Homo sapiens: one gene and its partners. The protein of the gene in region 1 interacts with the protein of each later gene in a pairwise test. Each region holds a gene or a part of one and is shown on either strand. Other genes may lie near its edges.

Region 1 (8,201 bases):
CCGATGCACTCAAGGTTGCACCTGGGCGCTGTGCAGGGTCATCCCCCCCTCTCTGGGCTTCATTTCTCATTTGTGAAATGTAGTGTGTTGGCGTCCAGTAAGGGTCCTTCCTCTGTGACCTCCTGCGACTCTAATAAGAAGGATGACATACACCATCTAACTCATGCATCTTGCTTACTTTGGGGAGAAGAGACGCCTCTAACTGTGCCAAGCACAGACCCTGGCACACTGTAGGTCCTCAGTAAACCACTGAGAATGATGGGATGGACAGACCGGTAGATGGGTAGGATCAACTGGCTTTTAGGAGGAACTACCAAGTTTAGTTACTACATCTTCACAAAGAACACTCCCCAGTCTCTTGACAAGTCTTCTCTAGATCCCACTCTAGCCCTGCAGTGGGGACTGGAAAAGAGGGTATTCATTCCCATTGCCACTCCACACACACACACACACACACACACACACACACACACACACACACACACACACATATATTTTCTCTCTCTCTCTTACATGCACAGAGGCCACTTGGCGTAACCTGGGCTTTCTAGAGTCCCAGTCTCAGGAAGTGTTGTGGGTGGTAGCCTGGGGCTCATCTAGGCAAGCCCCACTCACTCCGCCCCCACCACTGCCTGCACACTTTCAGTGATGCAGCACTCCTGACCTCCAGGGCAGTTCTTTCCTTCCCTGAGATGAGCCTCTTCCAGGCCTCTGTTATAGAGGCTTCACAGGCAGTCAGATGTCCACTGGGCTGTCCCTGTCCTCATCACTGGCCCTTTCTGGATCCATTGTATGATGGCCTTGAAGGACTTCTGATTAGGAACTCAATTCAATCCAACAGACACCATTCAACACCTCCCATATGCCAAGCACCACTCAACCCAGGCTATGGGATAGAGGTGAGGCCAAGCCTGGCTCTGACCCCTGAAAGCCTGATCACATGAGCATAGAACAGTACCCAGAATGGCCCAAGGTGGGGTTGGCAGGTCAGAGGAACCTAGCTGGTACTGAACCAGGAGAGGTTCCCCGCCCCCAGTGCTGGGTGAGAGCTGCAGGGCATCTGCCTGTTTAGAGACAGAGTGAGCCTGTGCACAAATAAGCTCATGGGCAGCAGTTCTTCAGCTCTTCCTGAGGCCAGCTGGGAGCCACAAGTCACCAGCCAGGAGTAAGAGGAGCTGACCTCTGAAGCAAGAGGAGACATGAGCTTGCTGAGCTCAGCCCCGAAACTCTGGATCCTGGGCACTCAAGTTTCCAGGCATCTGCACCTCTTCCACCAGGCAGTTCAAATGCTTTATGTTTTCAGTCTCCTTCTACACCTTTTTACATCAAACCAACCCAGAATTGCTTCACCTACATCAAGTTAGGCCTCACATCTTAAATTCAAAAATATCAGATCTGGGGGCAGGCGAGCTTAAGAAGCATCTAGTCAGCCCTTTATTTCACTGAGAAGAGACAGAAGCCCAGATAGTAAGAGAGGCATCCATGTACACACAGCTAGTTAGAGGCAGAGCCAGTGCTCAGCACATAACAGGTACCCAATAGATGCTTCTTGAGTTGATGGAACTGACATGAATCAGCCAACCTCTGGTTTTCTGTCTTTTTTTCACAAGGCAGGTTTACTCCAATAATTCCAGGTCTTGGGACAAGAGTACAAACGTAAGCTCCCTACCCACATCTTGCCTCCTCTGTTCCCACCCTCAGCACCATTCTGCACCATGAGAAGCTTCACACACATACACGTGAACAACCCAGCCTTTGTGTCCATGTTCTGGCTACATCTCCAGAGCACAGCCACTTACTGGCCTCTCTTGAATCCAAGGACACAGGAAAAAGGCCTGCACAGACACTACAGATGGACTTGAGGTAGTCTGGGGAGGAATTTCTGTAGTCCCAGTCCCCAATCATGATCTAAAAGGAGGAAAGGCATGTGGACTTTAGACGGCCTCGTCCCCTTGGCCTCAAGGACTCTTTGCCCTGTGGTAGATGTGCAGCTCCTATAAAGAGTGGGACCCTGGGCTCTAAGTTCCTAAAGAAAGTTTTGCTCAAAGCTAAATCTTTTTATCACAGGTGCATAGATAATAGAGCTAGAGTGGATTGGATCTATTATCTAAGACCAACCCCCTCATTTTGTAAATATAAAAACTGAGAGCCAGAAAGGGAAACAGACTTGCCAAGTTTACAAGGCTACTTAGCTATATAGAGCCAGTTCGTAGCACACAGCAGGTGGTCAATAAATGTTTATGTATTCAGATCAAATTGGATTAATTCACTAAACATATCTAGGAACAGAGCATAGCTGTACCCCCTGCATTCCCCCAACTCCTAGATTAAAACTTTCCCCAATGGACCTCATGGCCTCCTTCCTTCAGTTCCAACTCACTCTAAATGTCAGAGATTGCAGGGACATAGATGATATTACAGCTCTTCATTTAATGTGGACAACTAAGACCCAAAGATGGAACATAACTTTCTCAGGGTCACCCAGGGAGTTAGTGGTATTGCTAGGATTAAAAGCAAGAACTCTCTGACCCAGCCGGCTGTCTTTGTCTTTTTCCCCATCTGAGCTGACACCAGAATAAGCCCGCGACTGGGCTCTGTCTCTCCTTGGAAAGTACCCCACAGCTGTGACCCAGGGGCTGTCTGCAAGGTCCCTCCCCACTGAACCTCTCACCTGCCTGAGGCGTGCTGCTCCAGGTACTGCTTCCAGCCAGGGGCCAGCTCACTGGGCTTGAGGTTGGGGTCTATGATGAGCTCCCAGCTGTCCGCTGGCTTTGCCACCTCCATCTTCTCATAGAAGACTTTCTTCCACTCACAAGTGGTCAAGCTGGTACACATGGTCCTGCTGGCAGAGGTGGCAGTTCGAGCTCAGCCCTGGTGAGAACACAGAAAGAGCACGGATAGGTACGGGACAATTCAGTGTCTACGGTCAGAATCCTCATCGGCAGGACTGGGAGTAAACAGGACCCAGCTCCCTCCTCTGTTACCCTGGAACCTGTTACCATGGTAGCCAGGCAGGGCACCAAGAGTGAGGGCTGGGGAGAAGGGAAGCCCCAAGGGGGAGTTTCAGGGCCCTGAGTTAGGCTTCAGAGGCAGCGCTGGGTAGGCCTGAGAGGAGCAAGCACAGTGGGAGGCCCAACCTCAGACCACACTCATCTGGATTTCCAGAGGTCTCCAGGAGGCAAGGACTATTTGGTGGCCCTGCTTCACCCAACTGCTCTTCTAGCATTCTCCACATCATGTGCTATGGTAAGTACGACACCCTAGGAAGTCAAGGAGAAATGAGGGACAGGGAAAGGCAGAGCCTGCTGCTTCCACACCCCCTGATATGCTGTGACCATCACTTACCATGTGCCTAGCACAAACCGCTTGACCTGTGTGCTGGCCAAAGCAGATCAGATCAGGAAACTGAAGTTTATGCAACCCCTAAGTGGCTCATCCAAGATTCAGATCTAGGCCTTCTGAAACCGAGCTCATTTGTTTATTTATTTTAGTACTATTGTGCTCCTAACAGGGAATTGAGTGAGAAGTAACATCTCTTTGCCCAGGGCAATCTTAGACCAGTTGGTGAGCTAGAATGTAATTTCATATGCCATGCAAAGCACAGTAATAACATTTCAGATTCATAGCGTCATAGAACTGTTAGAGCCCATATTCAGTTCCTGGTCCCAAGCCAGGCTAAGGTGGCTGCTGGGGTAATGAGTTTGTTCTGTGCTGCAGGCTCCTGCTGCCTCCATTACTGCTGAGCTGGAGCAAGAGAGCATCCGTAGCTCTGTGATGCCCAATTCAAATTCTTTAGAAACCAGAGGGGAATCTGACTTCAAATTTGGTAATCCAAGTGAAGACACGGTTACCTGAAGGGAGGCTGCCTTGAGCATGGAAAAGACCAGGCATATGGCTGCTTACCCTAGCTTTGGTCCAACTTCCAACTGTAATCATCTTACGATTCTTTAACCCGGAAGTCTGGATCCCTAGACACGCAGAGTTCCAACAGTAAAGAGCTTCAAGAAGTGAAACAGGTTGCTAAGAACCGGAAGCTCTTGGTGTTGAGTTGCCAAGTGGTTTTCAGGAAGTGTGAAGTCAGGGACAATGTCACTGGATTCTCTCTTGAAATGAAAAGTGTTACTCTAGCGGCTTTGTGCTAAAGACCTCAGAAAGGACACAATTGTCTTTGAACCATTGACTGACAGCTCTAGAAGAGCTCTTTTATTTTTAAAAATCTGGTTTATTTCTTGAACTCTTCATTTCTTAACCAAAATTTATTGACATTGAATTAAAACAACTGAGGCCTGGAAATGGAAAATTACTGGCCCAGGCTCTCAGGACTGGGTAGCTCAAACCTCACTGGGGATTCCCTTAGAAGCCAGTTACCAGACCAGGTGAGACAGAGGGATCCATGAATGGCCAGGAACTGAACGAAGCTGAGATGAGCTTATGGCCTGGCCTAGACCCTCGTGCCAGGAAAGAACCTCTGAGAAATAGTATACCCTTGTTCCCAGAACAAATGGCAATAAAGGAAAAACAGAAAGAGGATGAGAATTGTCAGGGTTTACCTGTATTTTCTTTTTTCCTCAAATAATGCAATCCCCTTAGGCCTAGTATCAGGTTTAATTTAGCATAGCAGCTTCTAAGCAGAGACCAATAGAATTCATCTTTCTGTGTAACAGCACTGTTTTCACTTTTCATACAATCAGTGAGCACAATTACTACTTCAATTTTCCGCGAATGACACTATCTTATTCCAGAACCCACGATTTAAGAGCTCACAAATGTATATTGTGTACAGCTGTGGCCACATCACACTCTGGCAGCTTCATTATACATATTTTGTCTAGGCAATACTTTTTCAAATAAAGAAATTGTTATTTCTTTATAAAATAAAATACTGAGCACCTGTATTCTGCAAACAAATCAGCAAGGGGGAGGGGATGGATAAAAGAATCACTTTTCCCCTTCAATTTGGAATGCAAGTTAATGAAGAGCTTTGTAAAATATTTATTATTCAATTTTACTTATTAGAGTAATGTAAGAAATGCCAGTGTGGAGCTTAAAATGACAAAGTAATGAAGAGTTGAAAAGGTGTGTACATCAAAATCACCTGGAGAGTTCTGAAAACTGTATACACCTCTGCTTCAGAGATTTCAATACATGTTCTTGAGGAGACAAATTTGCTCTCCACCTACTCCAGTCCTGGGAAGAATCCCTTCTATTGCCAGCCATTGTTACTGATGGGATATGTTGTCCCACAGGCTACTGGAGGCCAAAAATGAAAAACAAAAAAAGAAGATTGAGTAAAATGAGCTAGTGGTTTATAATATTTCTTTACCAGGAAATAGATCCAGGACAAATGCAAGGTGTGTCCTATCTTCTCCTGTGTCTCCGCAATTCAAAGAACCGTAGACGATGCTATAGGGCGAATCCAAGATCCCCTGGGGAGTATTTTCAAGAGATATTAGGAAGGCCTCTCCATCCCCAGGATGTAGCACTTAGCGACAGCATGGTCCAAGCTCCCACTCTTTGGGTGGGAGCTGACCTCTGAATCTCAGGGGAGGCCACACAGAGCAGTCCATGGCTCTCTAATAGTGGCACATAGTGGAATCTTCCCAGGAAGATTTTACGCTGCCCTTTTATTAATTGGCAGCAACCAGAGCAACTGCAGGCAAGTGACATTCTGTTTCTGCTGGTGTCCAAGGGCCCAAATTCTGTGCACCATGCTTCCCAGCACCCCAAAGGCTCTGGAATCTGTATTAAGAGTGACTATATCTACTTATCCTTTTTTCCGGGTCTTATTATCCTAGATAGAGATTTGGTGACGAATCTATTATGGGATGTAAATACATAAAAAGACAGATAGAAATAGGGTGTGCTCCATGCAAGGGAGAAAAAAAAAAGATAGGGGTTGAGTTAGGAAGGAAGAATATAGAGGGTCTGGGGACACTTTCAGCAGGTACAGCCTATGCTGCTTCTGTCCAAGAGGCTGAGGGCCTTCATCAGAGTTCCTTAGCTATACTCAGAGAACCTGCTAGTTTCTGTTGAGCTGAGGCTCAACACACACAAAAATAGCCATGACTCATCTCTGGGACACTCCTAGCCATCAAGGCAGGGTGAAAAGGGAGCATGGGATAGATTGTGCTGGCTTTTAAAGCATCCATTCTAAAAATGACAAGGCTGGGGTCAATATCCTGGGCAGACTTTTAAAAATATATATCTTTCCTTTTAAACACACATTTACCCAGTAGAACATTTGTAGTTCCAGGGCTTTCCAGGAGACACCAATTCACATAAGGAAAGGACCCATTAAAGCTGAGTCCATTCCTGAGGCAAGTCTCTCACGATAAATAGAACGAATTTTACCTTGAGTATCTATCTTTAGGAAACAGGTCACCTTCCAAAGACTGATGGGGATTCCTTGATGAGCAGTCAGAAAGGCTGTTTGGCCCCAACACTTAGCTCAGTTAACTTCCTTGGAGACTTTACATTCCCAGAATTGACTATGTACTTCAATTTACATGGGAGTGAGAAGGGAAAGGACTAATACACTCATTAGTATTGTATTTACCCTTAAGGCTGGATACTGACTTTACCCTTTTTCTTATCCAAAAATCAAGATAAAATTGTTCAAGTGCATAAAATTGGACAAACATTACATAGATATTGCATAAACAGGCAGTTAAAAGCCCCCAGTAAAGATTTAAACAGACCACTTAGCTCTGACATTGGAACCAGAAGATACACAGTCAATAGGAGTCACAGGCCCAAAATGATCAGGCTTTGCTTAGAGTTAAGTTAAATATGCTAGAAACACTTCAATTTATTTCCCCAGTTGTCAAACAATTGGAAAGAGCATAACTACACACTATAAAAATGCTTTCTTACTCCCAAGGATAAGGCAGGTAGGTTTTATAGTAAAACAAAGCATATGAGACGCAGATCTTACATGAGATGTAAAACAAATATGTTAAACGAAGATGTTTTACATGAGATGTAAAACAAAGCATATGAGATGCAGATCTTTATATTTCTCAGTAAATTTGAGCTTTCTTGATATATGCTTATAGACACTATAGTTAAAAAGCTACATTTCTTGCAAAGTCCCAAGGTAAATATAAGTAAAGCTTGGGAAGAGAGAATTCTACAAGAAAACCCACTGACCAGAATAAAAAGAATTTTAAAACAGAAAGATCCCTTGATTAGTGAAACAAGAAAATGGCCACAACTACAAGCCAGAACAATTATAGTTAAATTTGGATATAGAGTGGGAGCACATGAAGAACCAATGCATGCCTCACTTCATCTCACGCAGAGTGAATATTTCTTTTCTTTTTTTTTCTTGGGACAGTCTCACTACGTCAAGCAAGTTGGAGTGCAATGGCGTGATCTCGGCTCACTGCAGCCTCTGCCTCCTGAGTTCAAGCGATTCTCCTGCCTCAGCCTCCTGAGTAGCTGGGATCACAGACGTGCACCAGCACACCTGGCTGATTTTTGTATTTTTAGTAGAGATGGGGTTTCACCATGTTGGCCAGGCTGGTCTCGAACTCCTGACGTCGTGATCCACCCACGTCGGCCTCCCCAAGTGCTGGGATTACAGGCATGAGCCACTGTGCCTGGCCAGAGTGAACATTTCTTTAAACATGACCCACCCCAGTAGCAATGAGCACACCTACCACACACATCTGGGTTCCTAATACCATTCTCCAGTTAAAATAACAACAACAAACTAGGTCTTCTTGGAAAAATTATATGAAGGCTCATTCATTCCTATGTCTGGAGGTTGATGCTGCCTGTGAGATGGGACCACAGCTAGGTCTATGGGCCAAAACATCTACACATGGCCTTTCTATGGAGCCTGGGCTTCCTCACAGGATGCTGGCTGAGTTCCAAGGGCTGGTGTCACAAGAGAATCAGGCAGAAGCTGTGCTTCCTTTTATGAGCTACCCTCAAAAGTCACAAGGCAACACTTTCACCATTGCCCAGATTCAAGGTAAAGGAGCATAGACCCCACATTTGGATAGGAGGAAAGTCAAAGCTATGTTGTAAGAAGATGCAAGTCGGGAGATACCAATGTGATCGTCTTTGGAAAACATGCATTGTCACAGCAGGTAGGGAAGTCAATAAGGCTTCCACAGAAGGAGTGGTATGTGAATAAACCCTTACAGGATGACCAATTGGCAGTTAAATAAAAAAAATGTTAAAGGGGTGCTTTT
Region 2 (6,353 bases), on another chromosome or scaffold:
AAAGAAGACAGAATCTAGTGCCTTACATATGTGGAAAGTCCAAACTTAGCACCAGGAGGAAGGGCAGGCTCTGTAGGTACAGGTAGGGTGGTAGCTGGTGTGGCAGAAGTACATGGAGAGTCTCTTCTGAGTCTTCCCATCTTCTCCGTGTTGTAGGAAGGAAGGTCCTCAGTTGAGAATGAGGAGAGAGGGAAGGAGGTGTTGGAGATTTGAAAGAAGAAAAGATGTGACTGGTCACTTGGGGGTGGAAGAGTGCGTGGACTGGGGAGATTGAGTAGGATTGATGCAGCCCTAGGGCCTCCCTGGAGTCCGCGGCTGTGAATGCAAAGAGAGCGGTCAGCATGGTTGTCTGTGTGGGAATGGACTCAGTCAACAGAACATTGCAATTGCATGGGGTTTGGTGTTGCCAGGTGCCTGCAAAGGTGAGGGAGTCAAATATGTAAAGAACTCATCTTGATTCTGGACCACAGCATATGAGCTAGGAAAGGAGGAAAGACAGGATGTGGAGAAGCCAGTGAGGGGGCAGGAGGAAAAAGGGACTACAAGTCCTGAGTGTAGTGTCAACAAGTTATTGGAATTGGGGAACTGGAGGAAATTAGAAAGCTGGTGGAGCATGAGTTGCTTGAAATTGAAGTCACAGAAGGGGCTTTGTTAATGACAAAGTTTAGGGAATGGCCAACAGAGCAAGTGGCTTGGGTAGGCAGAGCACAAGATCAGGGAGGAAAGGATGTCCAGGAACTGGGAGGCCCGGGTACTGGAAGGATCATCTACGTGGATATGGAAATCACTAGAACGTGTGACAGAGGTAGTACAGGAGAGAGTGACAGGCAGTTGCCCAAGCTGTTGAAAAATGGCATGGGAAAACTGTTCTGGAGGTTCCATATCGATATCTAGGTGACTGAAACAAGCAGGGCTGCTTTGCCCTGAGCTTCAAAGCTGGGGATTTTTTTTTTTTTTTTTTTTTTTTTTTTGAGGCTGGAGTGCCATGGCACAATCTTGGCTCACTGCAGCCTTGACCTCCTGGACTCGAGATCCTCCCACCTCAGCCTCTCAAGGAGCTGAGACCACAGGCACATGCCACCATGCCTGGCTAATTTTTTTTTTTTTTTTTGCAGAGACAGGGTCTTGCCATGTTGCCCAGGCTCCTGGGCTCAAGTGATCCTCCCGCTTGGCCCCCCAAAATGTTGGGATTACAGATGTGAGCCATTGTGCATTTTTAAGGCAGATAAAGGGAAAGTGATCTGGAAGTGGCAGTAAGGAGCAAGAAAGACTTCTCTTTAGGCCAGGGAAGAGGTTGTGTATGGAGAGAAGATAGTCGCACGTTGAGGGGATGCCAGGGAGTTAGTGCCTGAAAGGAAGAGCCAGGCTGAAGCAAGAAAGTGAAGAGGAACCCAGGGGTTGAAGGCAGGGTTGGGGAAGGTGGGAGTTGGTGTCACAGTAAAGGATGGACAGAGCTGCACAGTGACAGAGCCCAGGGTATGAAGATGGCCTCTCAAAATGGTTGAAGTGAACAGGAAGAAAGGGCCCCCTGGAGGGTAGCTCTGCTGGTCTTCAGGGCAATCTGTGGGGGTGGGGCTGTGTTGGGGAGGGGCCAGTGTGGGGGCTGGAGGACCCTGCAGAGCTCTGGGACCCCCTCTTCACTCTGGAGGAAGCTGGGAGAAAAGGGTCTTGCTGGGAGGGCAGGAAGATGATCAGTGTCAAGCTGTTGGCACAAGGTCTGGCGGGCACTCAGTAGACACACAGCCAGAGTGGCAGCCTCTTGGCCTGGGACTGTTAGACTTGTGGATCCCCGGGCCGGGGGTGCTCTGTATTTGGAAGGATGTATAAATGCAAAGGTACAGTTGCCCAAGGCCAGAGATCTGGCTGAATTGAGGCCTGGGAGTGAGTTTCTAACATCCTTGTTGATTGGGGCTGGGGTGGGTAATAATCTCTTACAGTGTAAAGTTTACAAGTATTTTTCCATCTTAGATCCCACGTGATCCTTAGGACAGCCCTTTGCAAAGGAGAACACTGAGGCCCAGAAAGGGCAACTGATTTGCCCAAGGCCACACAGTCAGGAACTTGGCTCTTTGAGCTCTAGGCCTCTTGTCCTTCTAGGCCACTATTTTGCTCCTCTCTGGCCAGATTAGTTCACTCTCGAGGAGGGGCCCAGAAGGAGGCTTGTTAGCTGGGGCCAGACTGTGTTGCTGAGGCTGAATGTTCCAGTCTTCCCTCCTGCAACATATCTTGCTCTCATAGTTCTCATTGTGAAGCTCTGAATCTTTCTTCTCTCTCCTCCCTCCCCCATGCTGCAGTACATGCTGTGGAGAGTAAGTGGCCCTGCCCCCATGGAGGCCAAACCCCTACTTCTGGGGCAGCCTGCCCTACTAGAATGGCGGGGAGGTTGGATGGGGCTGTGATTGGGTCTCCTCTGACCTGGCTGCTGGGTGACTGTAAAAGGTCTGGGATGTATCTTTGAAGTATGGTTCCTTGCAGCAGGAGGGATTGAGGCTAGAGGGCAGGAATAAATTGTTCTGGAACAGTTGGTACAGGGTCCCCATGGGATTTCTTCTGGGGAGCTTTGAGGGTGGAGGCAGGGAAAGTGTGGATGGCATTCTCAGATCCCACCTCACTTTGAGGTTCAGTGATTTGCCATCAGCTCTAGTTAGTGAGAGCCCATAGTCGGTGGGTTTTGTTTCCGGAGATGCAGGCAGGGCCATGGTGGTAGTCAAGGCATAGAGTTCCCTGTGGACGTCAGGGAGGAACCAGGGTCTGTTCTAAAGACTCCTGAGGAGGGCGTGAACTCTCACACAGGCCCAAGGCTTGCCCTTTCTGGCTGTCCTTAAGCAGGACCAGGAGGTGCCAGGCTGGAGAAGGAATGAGGGGCAGAGAAGACAGGTGGTTTGCAGTCCAGGGGGAGGAAGGAGGAGGCCAGTGCTGCTCCTACTAATGACGCCTTCTCCCTTGCCTTCTCCCTTCTCTCCTAGTCCATGACTTGCAGAGCTTTGGCCTTGACAACGTACGTACCAGATGGAAACCATGGAGGGCAGGTGGGGGTGGGAGGCTTGGTTGCTGCCTTCATTTCCTTGTAGGAACATCCTGGGATGGGGTAGTGCATATGGAAAAATACACCACGTTCTGAATGGGGATCCAGCCTGAGGGTTAAGCGAGAGTGACTTTTGAACTGAACTCTGAGCAGGCTAGGGGCAAGATTGGGGTTGGATAAGAGCATCCTAGACAGACAGAGCCTCAGCGCAAGGTCAGGCGGGAGCATGGCCCTTCTAAGGAACTGCGGGGCAGGTGTGGATGGGTGAGGCTGGAGAAGTCGGCAGGGACCAGACCACACCGGACTCAGAGGCCACGCTGAGGAATCACATCTTTCTCATGAGAACAGTGGAAAGCTGTTGGCCTTCTTTAAGCAGGATCACGACATAATCAGATTTGCATTTTAGGAAAGATCCTTCTAGTGTCTGAGGCTGATACACAAGGGAGCAGGAAGGGAGTGTATCTGGGGGTTCACAGCCTCCAGCCTAGGCCTCCAGGCAAAGCCAGCACCTGCTACTCTGTGTGCCTAACGTACAAGTGAAGCTGGTATTTTAAGAAATCTGGAACCTGGCCAGGCATGGTGGCTCATGCTTGTAATCCCAGCTACTCAGGAGGCTGAGGCAAGAGAATCGCTTGAATAAGGCGAGGCTGCAGTGAGCCAAGATCATGCCACTGCTCTCCAGCCTGGGCAACAGAGTGAGACCTTGTCTCAAAAAAAAAAAAAAAAAAGAAAAATCTGGAACCCCAGGAGTTTGCAGGCTGTGGAAGGAGGAGTTTCTAGGCAGGGAATGGGGGATTCTTATCTCGGGGAGGTTGTCCCCTTAGGACCATAGCCTCCCCTTCCTCCCACATCTCCGCAGACGGACCCAGGTGTCCCTGTCTGCTACTGTCATCAGAGCTTTGGATGAGCTCTGGATGGTGTTGTTTACAGATCAACATGACCCACTACATCCAGCACCTGTCATTTGGGGAGGACTATCCAGGCATTGTGAACCCCCTGGACCACACCAATGTCACTGCGCCCCAAGGTACCAGCCCGGGAGGCAGCCCCCAGCCGCAGAAGGCCGGCCGGGCACCCATACCCAGTGCTTTGTTTTCCCCTCAGCCTCCATGATGTTCCAGTACTTTGTGAAGGTGGTGCCCACTGTGTACATGAAGGTGGACGGAGAGGTGAGTCAGGGAGCTCCCTACCAGAGTCTCCTGCGCGGTGCCAAGCACTGGAGTTCCTGCATTTCGTTCCGTCAGCCTGGGGAGTGAAAGCTGCCTCGTCCTCACATGGCGAATAAAAGACTGAGGCACAGAGAGGGTGGGGGATTTGCCCTCCCAGGCAGAGTGCAGGCCTGGGGCTGTTAGATTTAAAGCGCCTGCTCTTTCTGCTGCCCTCACCGCTTCTATCCGTTCCTCCGGTGCCCACCGTCTGCCTGCCTCACTGTTCTCTGTGGTCTGCCTGGGCTGGGGGTTAGGCAAGGCAAGTCTCTGTGTACCCGCTCCCAAGGCTGCCCTGGCCTGTGGAGCAGCATCTCAGCAGAGTGGCAGGATGCGAGGGGCTGAGGGCAGAGGAAGTCAGGTCAGCCTTGGTGCGTCTTTGGAGAGCTGCTTCTCAGCCTGGACCCCCGTGAGAACACCCACCAAATGCTGCCAGGATAGGTAAACTGTAAAGACTTGGCACCTGGAGGGGAAGGCTGAGGCCAAGACTAGGAGAGGGGGTCTGGCGGGCCAGGCCTTGCAGTGCAGGCCACTAGCACGGTGCTGTGTTCTCTCCTTACACGGCCAAGGCTCAACAGGAAAGGGGAAGGAGCAGGGGTGGGGCTGATGGTGGCTGGAGCCAGGTCCTAGCCCTAGCCCTGGCCCAGGCTCCCCTCCCACCCCAGGTACTGAGGACAAATCAGTTCTCTGTGACCAGACATGAGAAGGTTGCCAATGGGCTGTTGGGCGACCAAGGCCTTCCCGGAGTCTTCGTCCTCTATGAGCTCTCGCCCATGATGGTGAAGCTGACGGAGAAGCACAGGTGAGGATGGGGGCAAAGCGGCCTCTGGGGGCCTGGGCCTGAGGGAGGAGGATGCCTGCTGAGCCCACCCTCTCCTTCTACCAGGTCCTTCACCCACTTCCTGACAGGTGTGTGCGCCATCATTGGGGGCATGTTCACAGGTAAGAGGCCCAGGGCGTCTGTGAGCTGTGGGGTGGGGAGGGTAAAGCCTGGGTGCCCCAGGTTTGGTTGGGGGTGAAGGGGCAGATGCTGGCCTGGCCAGTTAAGTGACAAGGCTCTCAGCGTCAAAAGCCAAGGCCCCCACTGGGCCAGTGCCAGCCCTTGTCTCTCTCCCAGTGGCTGGACTCATCGATTCGCTCATCTACCACTCAGCACGAGCCATCCAGAAGAAAATTGATCTAGGGAAGACAACGTAGTCACCCTCGGTGCTTCCTCTGTCTCCTCTTTCTCCCTGGCCTGTGGTTGTCCCCCAGCCTCTGCCACCCTCCACCTCCTCGGTCAGCCCCAGCCCCAGGTTGATAAATCTATTGATTGATTGTGATAGTACTCACTGGTCTCCGTGTGATCCTTGCCATGGCCAGAGCCTCATCCTGGCCACTCATTGAAGGCAATTGTGACTGACAGATCGGGGCCCAGAGCCCTCGGGAGCCCCACATGGGCATCCCCTAGTTAACCGGGGTTTATTCAAACCAGGTTCATGTCCAGCCCACAGCCCTGTCCTGGGTCCCTCCTCCACTGTGGTCCTCAGGCCTCTCGGGTTCAGCCCCAGGGCTCAGATGGACCTTTTCAGCGTGAGCTTCCTGGAGCCACCATGGCCCCCAGGCTCATGAGTGATCAACCCCAGGCCACTAATTCAGGGCCCTGAGTGCATATTGGGGCTTGCCACTTCTTCATTGATGGGTAAAGCTGGGGCCGCTCTCCGCCACCCTGGGCTCAATACACCTGATCCTGTCACACTCACTGATCCCACTCTGTGCCAAACCCCACGCTGGCTCTCACTGCAGAGAGGAATCCCTCCAGGTCCTCTGCAGTCTAGATGGAAGCAAAACTGAACACTGAGGTGCGAAAGTAGCAGTCAGTGGCCATTCTGGAGCAGGGCCAGCACCAGACCCCTGGCTTGGAGCCTAATCAGGGTTTCCCATTAGAACTCTGGATCCATGTGGAGAACCAGGGCCCAGCAACCTCACCAGTCCACAGCCTAGGGAACCAGGGGTACCTAAACAGCCAGTCAGTTTATCAGATCATGTCTCGAATGTTGATGCAAGACTGTGGCAGGGGAAAAGCGAGAGAGAGGGGAAAGGAAGCGAAGTCAGGTAGTGACAGCAGAACTTTTAGCTCTGAT
Region 3 (7,642 bases), on another chromosome or scaffold:
TGCTGTAATCCTTTTTCTCCTCCTAATCTTAGGTCCTTGCCTAATACTCCTCTTCACCCAGTTTTTGCAGAATCGTATCCATGCCTTTGCCCATGGAACCATACAGGTCATGATGTTACTCCAGGAGTATCAACACTTTCAAAACCAAAGCCAACCTCCACTTTCCAGCCTTTCCCCTAGCCCCTGCCCACTCTCAGCCTGAAGCAGTCTGATGAAATCAATGCCCCTTCTCTATCATCTGTTAAAAGGCTGGAATGTTAGGGTCCACCCAACTGGACTGTTTCCCGCTCCCATAGACCTAAGCCCCAAAGCCCCACCTGTAACTGTCGGACCCGAGGCCAGCTGTTCCAGGATGCGGTCAAGAAGTCTACCTTACACAACAGAACTGGCAAGAAAAACAACTCCAGGAAGCGGTCAGACACCTGGCACAAAGGATCCCCTACTCCCTGGCCTTTTCTTTTTCCTTCACCCTGACCCAGTTATATGCCCTATAAAACCTTGCTATATAGCCTGTAAGCGGGGCTGCCTCCTCTGCTTTTGTCAAGAGGTAGCCCACCAGGACTGACAATGAATCACATTGACTTGAGTCTATTGACCTCATTCCTTTCTTGGCTGTCCTTCCAATTATCCCTTAAACTATTATTTTCAGTGTTTTATTATAAACAGTGCTGAATATATTTGTGGGGGTTTTCTTTGTTGGTGTTGTCATTTTTTGAGACAAGGTCTCACTCTGTCATTCGGGCTGGAGTGCAGTGGCGCAATCATGGCTCACTCCAGCCTTGACCTCCCCAGGCTCAGGTGATCTTCCCACTTCAGCCTGCTGAGTAGCTGGGAATATAGACACATGCCACCATGCTCAGCTAATGTTTTTGTATTTTTTTTTTTTGTAGACACAGGTTTTCACCATCTTGCCCAGGCTGGGCTTGAACTCCTGGGCTCCAGCAATCAGCCCACCTCGCCCTCCCAAAGTGCTGGGATTACAAGCATAATGCCAGCCCAATGCTGAATATCTTAGACATATATCCGGAATGTTTCGGTGAGTATATCCATAGCAGTGAATTTACTAGGAATTATCATGCTATTATTCGGTTTAACATTCTTTTATCCTCCTCCACTCCACTGCAGTTGAGAATAAAATCTAAACACCTTATCTTGATTTACCTGTGGCCAAGATCTGACCCCTGCCTGTCTCTTCAACCTGTTTCTTTCAATTACTCCTTACTGATGGCCTGAAGCCACACCAGCCTTTTGTCCTCAATCCCGCAAATTTATTCTTTTCCTAGGAGCCTTTGTACTTGCTCATTCTTCTTTGTAACACTTCTGCAAGAGGTGGCTGGCTCTTTGCCAGCGGGGTCTCAACTCAAAGTCCTTCTCCCTGAGGCCTTCCAGGTTTAAATGAGCACTCCCAGGCCTTCATGTCATGCTGTTAAATTGTAATCCTAGCATTTCATTCTCTAAGAAATTATTTTGTCTTCCCTTCTGGAATGTAAGCTCCAAGTGCGCAAGAGCCCTGTTTGTCTCATTTGTGAGTCCCAAGAGCTCAGATGAGTATGTACTCAAAATATATCTGGTAGGCCAAGTGCGATGGCTCACGCCTATAATCCTAGCACTTTGGGAGACTGAGGCAGGCAGATCACCTGATGTCAGGGGTTCAAGACCGTCCTGGCCAACATGGTGAAACCCTGTCTGTACTAAAAATACAAAAATTAGCTGGGCATGGTGGCACATTCCTGTAATCCCAGCTACTTGGAAGGCTGAGACAGGAGACTCACTTGATCCCAGGAGGCAAAGGTTGCAGTGAGCCGAGATCGCGCCACTGCACTCCAGCCTGGGCAACAGAGGGAGACATCATCTCAAAAAAAAAAATAATTCTGGTGAATTAATGGTGTGGATTTAAAATTGTGATATATGCTGGGTGCCTATAGTCCTAGCGTGGAAAACATAACAAGTCCCCATCTCTAAAAAATAAATGAAATTATCATATAGGCTGCCAAATTGCTTTCCATACAGAGTCACCAGTTTTCAAAGTCACTGACAGTGCTTGTTTGTTTTTGAGATAAGGTCTCACTCTGTCACCCAAGCCGGACTGCAGTGGTGTGATCATGGCTCACTGCAGCCTTGACCTCCCAGGCTCAAGCTATCCTCCCATCTCAGCCTCCAGAGTAACTGGGATTACAGGCATGTACCACCACACCTGGCTAATTTTTAATTTTTTGTAGAGATGGAGCCTCACTATGTTGCCCAGTCTGGTCTCTAGCAATTGTCTTGCCTCAGCCACCCAAAGTGGATTTTCTGTCTTGATTCCTTTCTCACTTCTTACCTTAATTTATTTGATGAATCATTCACTTTACAAATATTTATTGATTATTCACAGGCTCAGGCACCGTGCTAAAATGGTTCTTTCTTATCTGGCCACACCTATCTTCCAGCCCAATCTTGCCAAGAGTTTTGGCCTGGGCCTTACTTCAAAGTGACGTAGACTTGTACTGTAGAGGTCTCTAGAAAGACAACCCTTGGCTGGGCATGGTGGCTCATGCCTGTAATCCCAGAACTTTGGGAGGCTGAGACAGGTGGATCACAGCCAGCCTGGCCAACATGGTGAAACCCCATCTCTACTAAAAACACAAAAATTAGGCGGGCGTGGTGGTGCTTGCCTATAATCCCAGCTACTGGGGAGGCTGAGGCAAGAGAACCATTTGAACCTGGGAGGCGGAGGTTGCAGTGAGCCGAGTTTGCACCACTGCACTCCAGCCTGGGCAACAGGGCGAGACTCCTCCATCTCAAAAAAAAAAAGAAAAAGAAAAAAGAAAGACAACCCTTAATGGGGGAGATGAGGACAGTCCCTACACAGAATCTTTGGCAGTGTCAATGTATACATTAATTTGCTAATCAACTAGGCTAGCCCTTTAATCTATATATTGTACTGGATTTTAAAAATTATTTCTTTACTTTCTCATTAGACCTTCCTCTTTTTTTTTTTTGTTTGTTTGTTTGGAGACAGAGTCTCCCTCTGTCGCCCAGGCTGGAGTGCAGTGGCAGAATTTTGGCTCACTGCAACCTCTACCTCACGGGTTCAAGCGATTCTCCTGCCTCAGCCTCCTGAGTAGCTGAGGTTACAGGTGCCCGCCACCACGCCTGCCTGATTTTTATATTTTTAGTAGAGACGGAGTTTCACCATGTTGGCCAGGCTGTTTTGAACTCCTGACCTCAGGTGATCCGCCCACCTCGGCCTCCCAAAGTGCTGGGATTACTTCTGTGAGCCACCACCGCGGCCGGTCCCTTCCTCCTTTAAAAATTTTTCTCCCAGTTCCCACTTTTTGTGGGTTAGAGGCATCTAAATTGAATGAAAGTACCCTTTTTGGACTACTGGGGAGGTGGGGGGATGTTCTCAGAAGGGGAATTTTCTTTCTGGTCCTAATATCCACCTAATTTTTAAAAGCAGGGCTCCTTATTATTTTGTAAAGTTTACAATTACATCATTAGATACTTCCATGTCTCATATTTCATTTTTCCAAACTCTTGGGGGAAATGAGTGGAGGGATGGATGGAATAGAAAATAGTTTTTCCTCTTGGAGGCTGAGGGCCCAGTAGGGGTCAACAGTACATTCAGCCCTCTCCTCACATATTCTGTTCTACCTACAAGTACAGCAAGTAAAGCCAAATTTCTCATGCATGCAAATAAAGTTTTTGCATTTGGCCAGTCGGTCCAGTTCTCCTGTCAGCTTCCTTCCCCACTCTGCCTCTGTTCATTAATCCCCCCCTTCCCGGTACCTAAACCCTCCACCTAACCCAGCCCTTTCTTCCACTTCCGGCTACTAGCCTCTCTCGCCTATCCACTATCCTCACACTCAGCATCCCCTGTCTGTACGAGATTAAGGAGCTCTGCCGTCCGCAGGGCCTGGGTTAGCGTGAATCTAAGCCAGAGCTCCCGGGTGGGGGTGGGGGTAGGGGTGGGGGTGGTCCCAGAGGTAGGGCGAGGAGGTGGGAAGCGTATTCCCTTCACTGGTGATCTCAACGTAGATTTGCCCGGAGTTCTCTTGCAAGAGAGCTGGCAGGTTTTACTATTTCCCAATCGTTTACTCGCCAAGCTCTCGGGTCCACGCGCCGCGGGGATGCGCCCTGCAAGCTGAAACTTCATTCAAAGCAAGGCGGCCCACGAGGTTGGGCTTAGGGGATCTGGATGACCTCCAGGCCACTTCCTTTCTCTCTGCGCCCTTCCCCCACTCTTCCAACCACCTTCGCTGTAAACAAAACTGTCCCCCCCGGGCGGAGAGAGGTCGCGCTCTTTCGCACACTCCCTCGCCAAGGGTTAATTTCTCAAATCGCACGAGGGGGAGGAGATTTCCCTGTAGACGAGTAAAAAGGGTGATGGACAAACGTGCGGGCACTAAGACCGCAAGGCATTCATTTCCTCCTACGGTGGATGCGGACGCCGGGAGGAGGAGAGCCCCAGAGAGAGGAGCTGGGAGCGGAGGCGCAGGCAATGCTCAGCCCTGGATGTAGCTGAGAGGCTGGGAGAAGAGACGACCGCTGGAGACCGAGCGGCGTGGGGAAGACCTAGGGGGGTGGGTGGGGGAAGCAGACAGGAGAACACTCGAAATCAAGCGCTTTACAGATTATTTTATTTTGTATAGAGAACACGTAGCGACTCCGAAGATCAGCCCCAATGAACATGTCAGTGTTGACTTTACAAGAATATGAATTCGAAAAGCAGTTCAACGAGAATGAAGCCATCCAATGGATGCAGGAAAACTGGTACGTGATGCTTTCGCCTGATACTGTTCCCGGGAGCCCTGCGCGTCTTCCCGGAGTGCCTTAATGTCGGTATTCCCTGCCTGGGCGTGAATGGAGCGATGAATCGCGGGCAGCCAGCTGATCGCTGAGTTCTCGGGTCTCCCGGGTGCAGGAGACGCTGGGGGGGGGGGGGTACATGAAGCGCGAGGTCTGTGGGTGCCCCTGTGTGAACCGCGGCTACATAGGCATCTTTTATATAGATTATATAACACAGAACATATGTGTGTGCACAGGGTGATGTCTGCGCGACAGGGAAGGCGGGAGAGATGCCACAGTCCAGATCGCCTACCTGTGCTCCCCTCCCCTCCCCCGGTTTTCATCTAGATTTGGGTTTTCTCGCTTGGCCTCTCCCGCAACCGGAGTGTGAAAGGCAGTGGAGGGAGGACCTTGTCTCCTGTTGCCTTTAACCCTCTCCCGCCCGCCGCCCTTGGCCCTGGTCCTCGCTGTCTCTCCATCCCTCGTGTCCTTCCTTTCTCCTTGCAGCGCTCCTACTTCACCGTCCTCCTCTGTCTGCCGCTCCTCAGGCGGATGCCCCCTTTTTAGTACCCCTTTCCCCACGCGGTTCCCTTTCCGGTTTCATAGAGAGACCGGGTGGGAGGGAGGAGGGGACAATGAAAACAGTAATAAATGAATGAACCCGAGCGAGTGGAGCCACGCCATTATTAAGTTTCTGTTTTACGGAAACGCCTTTTGGACACACTTCTAATTCTGTGCGTAGCTGCTGATTGGAGTTCAGGCACACAGATTAAAAGCCCCTCCGTCTGCAGAGTCCTTAGGGGCTCTTCCCTAGGAAACTAATAATCAGGGAAAACACCTTTCTTGTTTACTGTAGTCCCCCCGCCAGACCTTTTGAAAATCCCTGTGTGGGAGGCGATCCAGTGTCACCTTGCAATATTTAACAGAGGAGGGTGTGCTCATCTCGCTTCTTGTAGACAGGGTTGTGGCAGAGGCATTCCTCTCCTCCCCTTAACTTCGGGTCTGGCGATCTGTAAAGTTCAAGCCCAACGCACCCCGGAGCTAGGCAAGGGGCCGGCAGCCCGGGGGATGGCTTGACCGGGGAGGGTCGGGCCGCAGGGTCTCCCGGGAGCCGGGGGATTCCGCCCGCCGCGTGCGCGAGCGCGCGTGCCCCGCGCCCTCCCGCCTGCCCTCTTCAACTGGAAACCAGAAACGCCGGCGCGCCTGTGGCCTGGGCGGGTTGGTGCAGTAGGAGCTGGTGCCACGGGGCCGCAGCTGCGAAAAGGGGGTTTCAACTTCCTGTCCTCCAGCCCCCTGGAGTCGCCGGCCAGTGTCGGGAGGCCCGGCCGCCGCTTCCTTCTCCTCCCGCCCGGCCGGAGCGCGCCCACTCCCAGCTTCCCGCGGGCTGGTCCGGGCCCCAATGGCCATTTGCGGCGGCTGCCGGGCGGAGCCCGCCTCCTGGGCCGCGCGCACCGGCGGGGCAGGCCTGCTTGGGGTGAGCTGCGGCGTGGCTGGTGGCGGCGGTGGGCTAGGGGCCCAAGGGCCGCGTCTGGCCCGAGCCGGAGCCTAAGAGGCGGGGACGCGGGCCGCTCGGAAGGACTGGAAGTGCAGCAGCCACACAGGCACAGGGCTGGTGCCCTCCCGGGCCGCTGAGGCCAGGGGGTGCAGGGGTGGGTCCGGAAGGAGGTTGGACACTAAGGGTCGAGACCGCAGATAGACCTCGGCGTTTCGGGGCAGCCGAGGCCCCTCGAGCCCCACCGCCCGGGGTCCTTCTCTGGATGCACTTCCTCCTCCCGCTTAGGGGGTGGTGCTGGAGGCGGGGAGGGGGCGGTGGCCGGAGCCGGCGGGCGCCGGAACCGCGCTGCTGGCTAGCCCCGGGCCCGGGTCTTCTCCGCACATGTTTGTCATATCCTCCAGCCGGCCTGTTCGGGCCCACAGTCCTCCCGCATTAGCCTGTGTGGTCAGTGTGGTCAGCATTTGCTTCTGTGCCGAATCTCTGACTTGCTGCGTCCTGGTTTAACCTGCTCTTCCGGAGTCCGCTTTCCCTCGCTTTGCTGGCTGACCCCATTCACTGTACGCCCGCCATTCCTAGCCCACTGCAGTCGATACTGCCTCTTATTTACTTGTTGCTTTTTCTCTGAGGCCACTTCCTAGGCCTGCTTCAGGTACCATTTCCCGCCTCTTCTCTCCATTCACTCAGTACTGAGCCAGACAGGTCTCAGCCCTCGTGGGACTGAAAATGACAAAAATGTGCCAACGTATCTACTCCTGTTAGGTTCTGACCACTGTTTCCTCCTAGTTCTTTATCTGTACCTTTCTTCTGGCAATATCCTTTACTGTTATATACATGGTTATTAACTTACAGACCATCAGCTCTTCAGGTTACGGTTCTTGTCATCCCACTCTTGATTCTGCAAAGCACCTAGCAGAGTGCTTTGCATAAGGCACATTCTTGAGAAAATGTCCAGTGAGTTGAAATGGTGATTGGTGCCCATTTTATTGCCAGCACTACTCGTTAATACCCGAAGGTTAACAGGCTAGAACTTGCATACCGTGGCAGAGTCACATCTTGGGATTTTTCCCTTCCTGGCTTCTGCTCTCTGTTGATGTTATGTTCTTAGATTGCTTATTGCAGTCAAAGAACCCTGCTGGCTGTTACCCCTCCCTTGCAACTCTTCCTGACCCTAATTGTCTTACTTTCATGTTTTTTTTTAAATGCCAGATTTTGTGCATTTCTCCCAATATCCCAGGGTGCCCAATTTTATCTCTCCTCCCTCCCCAAAAACTGTACAGCCAAAAAGACTTTAAACACTTTTTAAAATTTAATTTTATTAGCCGGGTGTGGTGGCTCCTGCCTGTAATCCCAGCACTTTGGGAGGCTGAGGTGGGTGGA
Region 4 (7,437 bases), on another chromosome or scaffold:
GTGACTGCATATGTGTGTGCATGTGTGGGTGCGGGTGCATCTGTGTGTGCATGTTTGGGTGCGGGTGCATGTGTGCGTGCACGTGTGTGTGGATGAGAGGTCGCATGTGTGTGGGTGAGGGCGTGTGTGTGTGCATGTGTGTGGGTGAGGGGGCATGTGTGTGCACGTGTGTGGGTGAGGTGTGTGTGTGCATGTGTCAGGGTGTGTGTGCGCGCATGTGTGTGGGTGAGGGCCTGTGTGTGCGTGTGTGTGGGTGAGAGATGTGTGCGCATGTGTGTAGGTAAGGGTGCTTGTGTGCGCATGTGTGTGGGTGAGGGCGTATGTGTGTGGGTGAGGGCACGTGTGCGCGCGTGTGGGTGAGATGGCGTGTGCGTATATCCATGTATGACTGCATCTGTATTTGCATGAGTTCATGTGTGAGTGCATGTTTATACGCGTGTCAGGGTCTCTGTGTATGTGTATGACGTGTGAGTACATGTGTTAATGTGTGTGTACATGTGTATATGCCTGTGTGCATGTGTGTATGCATGTGTATACATGTGTACTTGTGTATGTGTATATGTGTATGTCTGTATATGTGTGTGTATGCCTGTGTACGTATGTATATGCGTGTGTGTATGCATGTGAGTGCATGTTTATGCGTGTGTATGTGTACTTGTGTGTGCCTGTGTGAGTGCATGTGTGTGTACATGTGTATATGCGCGTGTGCGTATGCGTGTATGTGTACGTGTGTATATGCATGTGTGTGTATATGCCTGCATGTATATGCACAAGTGTGTATATATGTGTATGTGTGAGTGTATGTGTGCATGTGTATCTGTATGTGCGTGTGTATATGTGCATGTGTGTATGTGTGCGTGAGTGTGTGCATGTGTGTGTGTATGTGTGCGTGTGTATGTGTGTGCGTGAGTGTGTGAGAGTGTGTATGTATACGCACGCGTGTGTGTCTGTCTCCCTCAGGACAGTGCCCAGGCGGATGGGTCAGTGCTCCTGGGTTGGTTTGCCCCTGGTGGCCCATGTCTGAGCCCTGCCCCTTACGGCTCTGTCTGCAGGTTCTCCCATGGGCAGGTGGTCTCTCTGGATGAGCTGCGCCCCTTCCAGGACCCAGACCTGAGCTCCCTGCAGGCCGGCTCTGCGTGTCTGGCCAAGCACCAGGATGGCCTCTGGCACGCAGCACGCATCACCGGTGAGGCTGGCCGTGGGGGCCTCCCGGGAACACCCTCCCAGGCCCCACGTGTGTTGTCACTGTGTGGCTGCTCCCTGCTTCCTTTGGGTTGAGTGTCGGGACTCTGGCTCTGGGCCCGAAATGAGCACACCTACCCTCAGCCTCTGCCCTGCCTTGCTCCTCATGTCCAGGGTGGTTCCCTTCAGTGGCACCTGCTGTCAAGGATTCTGACCTGCAGCTTGTCTCTGCCCCCAGATGTGGACAACGGCTACTACACAGTCAAGTTTGACTCGCTGCTGCTGAGGGAGGCCGTGGTGGAGGGGGACGGCATCCTGCCCCCACTGCGCACAGAGGCCACAGAGTCCGACTCAGACAGCGACGGTACGGGTGACTCCAGCTATGCCAGAGGTATGGCAGCAGCTGCGGAGCCCAGGAGCCAGGAAGGTGGGGTCACCCTGAGAGGCTCCTGGCCGGTGAGGGCACCAACCATCTAACCAAACTATTGGAGAGTGTGTGACTGCGGCGAGGGTGCCACCTGTGCCTGAGGAGGCCGTGTGGGTAGGGGTAGATCCGTGGCGGCCTTTATCTTCAAGGAGTGTGGGTGCAACAGCTACAGTCTCATTGATGGGAGGCCATGGTCGTGGCTGTGGCCATGGGAGAGGAGGGGCCTGGAGTTGCCGAGGAAGTCACAGAAAATGACCAACTGATGGGGCCTGGAGTGCAGGAGGGGCAGCTCCTCTGCATGGCTTCTCAGACTTGGGACCTGGGTGCCTGGGATCCTGGCAGACAGAGGTTGTGTCCAGACAGCCAGCATGGAAGTTTCGGGAATGGGAACTGGTGGGCAGTGTCCAGCTCTCCAGAGGGGTGTGTGTATGCGTGTGCGTGTGTGTGTATATATGTGGGAGGTCACCTGACCCAAGCATGGCGGGCTGAGTCCAGGAGGGGTCTGCATGTTGGAGGTGTACCCAGGGATCAGTGATGGTGGTTTCTGAAGCCCCATGTCCCTGGTGAAGGAGGACTGAACCAAGGACTCTGTGAGGGCAGGTGAGGCGCTCACAGCCTCGCGAAGGTGGAGAAGGGCAGGGGCAGGAGAGGGCTGCGGAGGAGGGGCCACGGTGCAGCAGGCCGTGGGGACTGCCATGCACTCTGCCTGGTGTCACATGCCCACAGCAGCCTCGGTGACGAGAGCACGGAGCCCAAGAGGTGGGGTGTCGTGGCTCTGCCCAGGATCTGAGCTCATTGGTCAAAGCCCGGGTCACCATGCACAATCCTCTGGCCTGGCTGGGCCACTGCCCTCTGTCCATCTCTTGCAGTGGTGGGGTCGGACGCCGTGGACTCTGCACAGTCCTCTGCCCTCTGTCCGTCTCTTGCAGTGGTGGGGTCAGATGCTGTGGACTCTGGGACCTGCAGCTCTGCCTTTGCTGGCTGGGAGGTGCACACGCGAGGTATAGGCTCCAGACTCCTCACCAAGATGGGCTATGAGTTTGGCAAGGGTGAGTACAAGCTGCCCTGGAGAAGTGGGCAGGCTGCTGCAGCATAGCCCAGGTCCAGCAGCCATCAGGTTCCCGGGGTCCCGCAGCCATCGGGTTCCCAGGGTCCCGCAGCCACAGCACTGCCATCCCCGTGCTCCTCAGATTCCCGGGGTCCCGCGGCCACAGCACTGCCATCCCCGTGCTCCTCAGATTCCCAGGGTCCTACGGCCACAGCACTGCCATCTCCGTGCTCCTCAGATTCCCGGGGTCCCGTGGCCACAGCACTGCCATCCCCGTGCTCCTCAGATTCCCGGGGTCCCGCAGCCACAGCACTGCCATCCCCGTGCCTCCGCAGGTTTGGGCCGACACGCGGAAGGCCGGGTGGAGCCCATCCATGCTGTGGTGTTGCCTCGAGGGAAGTCGCTGGACCAGTGTGTGGAGACCCTGCAGAAGCAGACCAGGGTTGGCAAGGCTGGCACCAACAAGCCCCCCAGGTGCCGGGGAAGAGGGGCCAGGCCTGGGGGCCGCCCAGCTCCTCGGAATGTGTTTGACTTCCTCAATGAAAAGCTGCAAGGTCAGGCTCCTGGGGCCCTAGAAGCCGGGGCGGCCCCAGCGGGGAGGAGGAGCAAGGACATGTACCATGCCAGCAAGAGTGCCAAGCGGGCCCTGAGCCTGCGGCTCTTCCAGACTGAGGAGAAGATCGAGCGAACCCAGCGGGACATCAGGAGCATCCAGGAGGCTCTCGCCCGCAACGCTGGCCGGTACGTGTGGGGCCCAGCTCAGGGCAAAGGGCGACCCAGGGTGGCCCTGCCCCCGGGATACATGCTGGAGGTCACCTGACCCAAGCATAGCGGGCTGAGTCCAGGAGGGGTCTGCATGTTGGAGGACGGGCAGCGGGCACACAGGCAGTGGGTACGGCAGACTGGGGTTGGTGGCATGGCCCAGGACCCCACGCTGACTAGTGAGCCCCTCCGCAGGCATAGCGTGGCGTCAGCCCAGCTGCAGGAGAAGCTGGCAGGAGCCCAGCGCCAGCTGGGGCAGCTCCGGGCTCAGGAAGCCGGCCTGCAGCAGGAGCAGAGGAAGGCAGACACCCACAAGAAGATGACTGAGTTCTAGAGACCCCACAAGCACTATGGACGAAGCGTGGGACCCCAGCACGGGCTGCCCTCAGGAAGACCAGTGTTGCCCGAGGAGGGGCCGGCCTGCTGGCCTGGGGCGTGCAGACACTGCTGAGTGGAGACAGAGCTGCGGGGTCCCATCTGGACACTTACTTGCCCACCTGCCAGTGTCTTGGGCATTTCCTTGGCAAGGACATTAAAGTGATTTCATCACAGTGTCATTCAGTGGAGATCAGCTGGCTGCAGGGTCTCTGGGGAGAGAAGGGTCTGTGCAGGGCTGTGGTGAGAGACGGGCTGGGCTGGAGGGGCCTAGGAGGCCGGCATTCTCCCTTCTTACCCTTCTCTGACCAAGGCAGATCGGAGGCCAGGGTGCCCGCCAGGCTGCCTGACACCCACAGATGGGTGGAGCTCAGTGCTGCTCCAGCGGGCGAGACGGGCGGGAGAGGACTGTGGCCCACCACGTGGGGCACTCTTGGTGAGGCAGGCGGACCTGGCCCTGTGGGTTTGGGGGTTCTGTGCCAGCTCTGCTCACGTCTTCGTGTGTGGAGGGGTTGTGAGTTAGGCTGTCAGAACAGTGCGGGCTAGAGGCGCACACGTTTCATCTAGGCTTCGGGCGGGGCGCAGCAGGTGGGTGAGGCTGCGGTGGTGGCTGCTGCCCAGGGTGGGAGGCTCAGGGGAGGCGCTTGGCGACAGGAGCAGGAAGTGATGAGGTGGGGAGCTCAGCCGAGGGCTGCACAAAGACCTTCCTGGCCTGCCCCAGACAGAGCTGAGGACCCCTGGCCGTGGGCTTGGTAAGTGCCCTCCTGGGGGGCAGCTGGGGTCTGGGAGGCCTTGGGATGTGGCTGCAGCTGGGTCAGTCAGCCAGGCTGAAGCCCACTCCCTGGGTCTGAGCAGACTGGCCCCAAACTCCAGAGACCACCCCTCACCCCCCAGCTTCTGTCTCTGCTGCTGGACTGTGCTGTTTGTAAGGCATCCCCCACCCCGAGAAGTTCTGCTAAGATCCCCAAGAAGGGGACAGATCCTCTCTGGCAGAGACACTGGCAGACAAGAAGAGCCAGAGAGAAGTGGGGTGGGGGCATCAGCACCCCCAGCAGCTGCTGCTGCCTGCTGACCCAGCCTCCAGCTCCTCCGGGTGCAGGGTCCCTCCTGCTGACCAGCCTCCAGCTCTTCCCAGTTCTGGGCTCCGCAGCGAGCGGCTTGGGGGCACTACCTGACACAGGAGACCATGTCTGGGCAGAGGGTGGCTGCAGGTGGAGTCTGTGGCCTGTGGCGCACACCCAGGGGCTCCCCCGATGCTGGTTACTATCTGGGCTATGGTGGCCACAGCTGTCTTGCCCCTCCTCACGGCCGTGCTGGGTGTTACCGTGGTCACCCGCAGGGACACGGAGGGGCCAGGCAGAGCAGCCCTAGTTCACCTCACCGGGAGCCCCCGCCAGAAGGTGGGCACCTCTGGGAGGGAGGGACTGCCAGGCCTTGGGGCTTCCTGTGCTGAGTCAGAGCTGGAACGGGAGACGCAGGAGCCCCGCAGCCGCGGGAGGTGCAGATTTGGGGCTGCCAGGTGGCGCCAGGTCCCCTTGGCCAGCCCCCAGCGCCCCTTTCTTCTGTCCCCAGGGCCTCGGCTTCACAGGATGGGGCTGCCAGTGTCCTGGGCCCCTCCTGCCCTCTGGGTTCTAGGGTGCTGCGCCCTGCTCCTCTCGCTGTGGGCGCTGTGCACAGCCTGCCGCAGGTAGGTCCCTCAGCCGCGTTCTGTCTGGGGCCTCGCTGCGGCTGCCATTCACAGCCCAGCGCGGGAAGGGGCTGGAGGCAGGTCCGCGCACCCAGCTCGGCACGCGCGCCTGCACCGGGCCTTGGACCCGAGGCTGACGACCCCGCCCCCCGCCCCCCACCTCTACCCCCAAGGCCCGAGGACGCTGTAGCCCCCAGGAAGAGGGCGCGGAGGCAGCGGGCGAGGCTGCAGGGCAGTGCGACGGCGGCGGAAGCGGTGAGTGCCAGGCTGTCCCGGGGACCAGGGTGGGGTCCGCAGGGCACCGACCAGCCTTCCTCGCCCCCAGTCCCTACTGAGGCGGACCCACCTCTGCTCCCTCAGCAAGTCGGACACCAGACTGCACGAGCTGCACCGGGGCCCGCGCAGCAGCAGGGGTGAGCAGAGGGCGGGGCGGGGGCGGCCGGGCGGGGCTTACTGTGCAGCGCGTGCCAACCCCTGGGCCAGACCCGCTCCTGCCCCCTGCCCGGAGTGAACTCTGCCCTGACCCCACCCCCAGCCCTGCGGCCTGCCAGCATGGATCTCCTGCGCCCACACTGGCTGGAGGTGTCCAGGGACATCACCGGACCGCAGGCAGCCCCCTCTGCCTTCCCACACCAGGAGCTGCCCCGGGCTCTGCCGGCAGCTGCAGCCACCGCAGGGTGCGCTGGCCTCGAGGCCACCTATTCCAACGTGGGGCTGGCGGCCCTTCCCGGGGTCAGCCTGGCGGCCAGCCCTGTGGTGGCCGAGTATGCCCGCGTCCAGAAGCGCAAAGGGACCCATCGCAGTCCCCAAGAGCCACAGCAGGGGAAGACTGAGGTGACCCCGGCCGCTCAGGTAACGTGGGCCAGGGTAGGGCGCTGTGGGTGGGGCCGGCAGATCCTCAGCAGGTTGGATGGTGCTGACCCCTCCTCGGGTTGGCTTCCTGTCTCCAGGTGGACGTCCTGTACTCCAGGGTCTGCAAGCCTAAAAGGAGGGACCCAGGACCCACCACAGACCCGCTGGACCCCAAGGGCCAGGGAGCGATTCTGGCCCTGGCGGGTGACCTGGCCTACCAGACCCTCCCGCTCAGGGCCCTGGATGTGGACAGCGGCCCCCTGGAAAACGTGTATGAGAGCATCCGGGAGCTGGGGGACCCTGCTGGCAGGAGCAGCACGTGCGGGGCTGGGACGCCCCCTGCTTCCAGCTGCCCCAGCCTAGGGAGGGGCTGGAGACCCCTCCCTGCCTCCCTGCCCTGAACACTCAAGGACCTGTGCTCCTTCCTCCAGAGTGAGGCCCGTCCCCCGCCCCGCCCCGCCTCACAGCTGACAGCGCCAGTCCCAGGTCCCCGGGCTGCCAGCCCGTGAGGTCCGTGAGGTCCTGGCCGCTCTGACAGCCGCGGCCTCCCCGGGCTCCAGAGAAGGCCCGCGTCTAAATAAAGCGCCAGCGCAGGATGAAAGCGGCCAGCCTCGCAGCCTGCTCTTCTTGAAAGCTGGGCGGGTTGGGGCGGGGGGCTTCTCTGGAAGGCTTGGAGCTGTCCCCTCTGGCCTTGGGGGACTGGCTGCCCCCGGGGCGCCCGGGCCTAGCCGAGGCGGTGCTCCTGCCGGCCAGACTCTCGGTCAGTGCGGGCACGGGGTCCCAGCCACTCCTAGGGGGCAGCGCAGCCGGCAGGGTGGCCGCCCCCGGGTGGGACTTGGACCCTGGACTCCACGGGAGGGCTCCGCCACCCAGCCTGGTGTTACATAAGGGGTGGTGGAGGTGGGCAGTCGAGCGTTAAAGAGTAACCTGCTGCCGGGAAGCCCGCCAAGCAATCGCGGCCCCTTCCCCGGCTCTGGCAGCTCTGCGAGCGCGCCCGTGGGGAACGGGCCCTCCCCGGCGGGGCGCGCGGGCGCGCGAGGTGGGCGGAGGCCTCGGAGCTGTGCCGGGCCGGGCCTCCCTCCCTAGGCCAGCGCGGGAGCGACC

Evidence for each region.
Region 2: the proteins of RTP2 (region 1) and ERGIC3 interact in binary tests that used the Homo sapiens proteins (3 or more experiments, as listed by UniProt).
Region 3: the proteins of RTP2 (region 1) and ELOVL6 interact in binary tests that used the Homo sapiens proteins (3 or more experiments, as listed by UniProt).
Region 4: the proteins of RTP2 (region 1) and LIME1 interact in binary tests that used the Homo sapiens proteins (3 or more experiments, as listed by UniProt).

The regions. Positions count from the first base shown.
Region 1 is NC_000003.12:187,699,294-187,707,494, forward strand, and holds the start of RTP2 (receptor-transporting protein 2), read right to left. Parts: upstream 3,265-8,201; 5' UTR 2,836-3,264; coding exon 2,672-2,835; intron 1-2,671. UniProt on the Homo sapiens protein: Specifically promotes functional cell surface expression of olfactory receptors, but not of other GPCRs.
Region 2 is NC_000020.11:35,552,078-35,558,430, forward strand, and holds the end of ERGIC3 (endoplasmic reticulum-Golgi intermediate compartment protein 3), read left to right. Parts: intron 1-2,294; coding exon of another isoform or gene 2,295-2,309; intron 2,310-2,966; coding exon 2,967-2,998; intron 2,999-3,955; coding exon 3,956-4,052; intron 4,053-4,129; coding exon 4,130-4,194; intron 4,195-4,895; coding exon 4,896-5,032; intron 5,033-5,116; coding exon 5,117-5,172; intron 5,173-5,347; coding exon 5,348-5,427; 3' UTR 5,428-5,557; downstream 5,558-6,353. UniProt on the Homo sapiens protein: Possible role in transport between endoplasmic reticulum and Golgi. Positively regulates trafficking of the secretory proteins SERPINA1/alpha1-antitrypsin and HP/haptoglobin.
Region 3 is NC_000004.12:110,195,360-110,203,001, reverse strand, and holds the start of ELOVL6 (very long chain fatty acid elongase 6), read left to right. Parts: upstream 1-4,386; 5' UTR 4,387-4,666; coding exon 4,667-4,755; intron 4,756-7,642. UniProt on the Homo sapiens protein: Catalyzes the first and rate-limiting reaction of the four reactions that constitute the long-chain fatty acids elongation cycle.
Region 4 is NC_000020.11:63,732,167-63,739,603, forward strand, and holds LIME1 (lck-interacting transmembrane adapter 1), read left to right. Parts: upstream 1-4,497; 5' UTR 4,498-4,546; intron 4,547-5,366; 5' UTR 5,367-5,383; coding exon 5,384-5,481; intron 5,482-5,654; coding exon 5,655-5,736; intron 5,737-5,806; coding exon 5,807-5,894; intron 5,895-6,016; coding exon 6,017-6,333; intron 6,334-6,431; coding exon 6,432-6,734; 3' UTR 6,735-6,937; downstream 6,938-7,437. Other genes in the region: ZGPAT (zinc finger CCCH-type with G patch domain-containing protein), read left to right, coding at 1,053-1,186, 1,421-1,573, 2,479-2,658, 2,993-3,398, 3,615-3,753.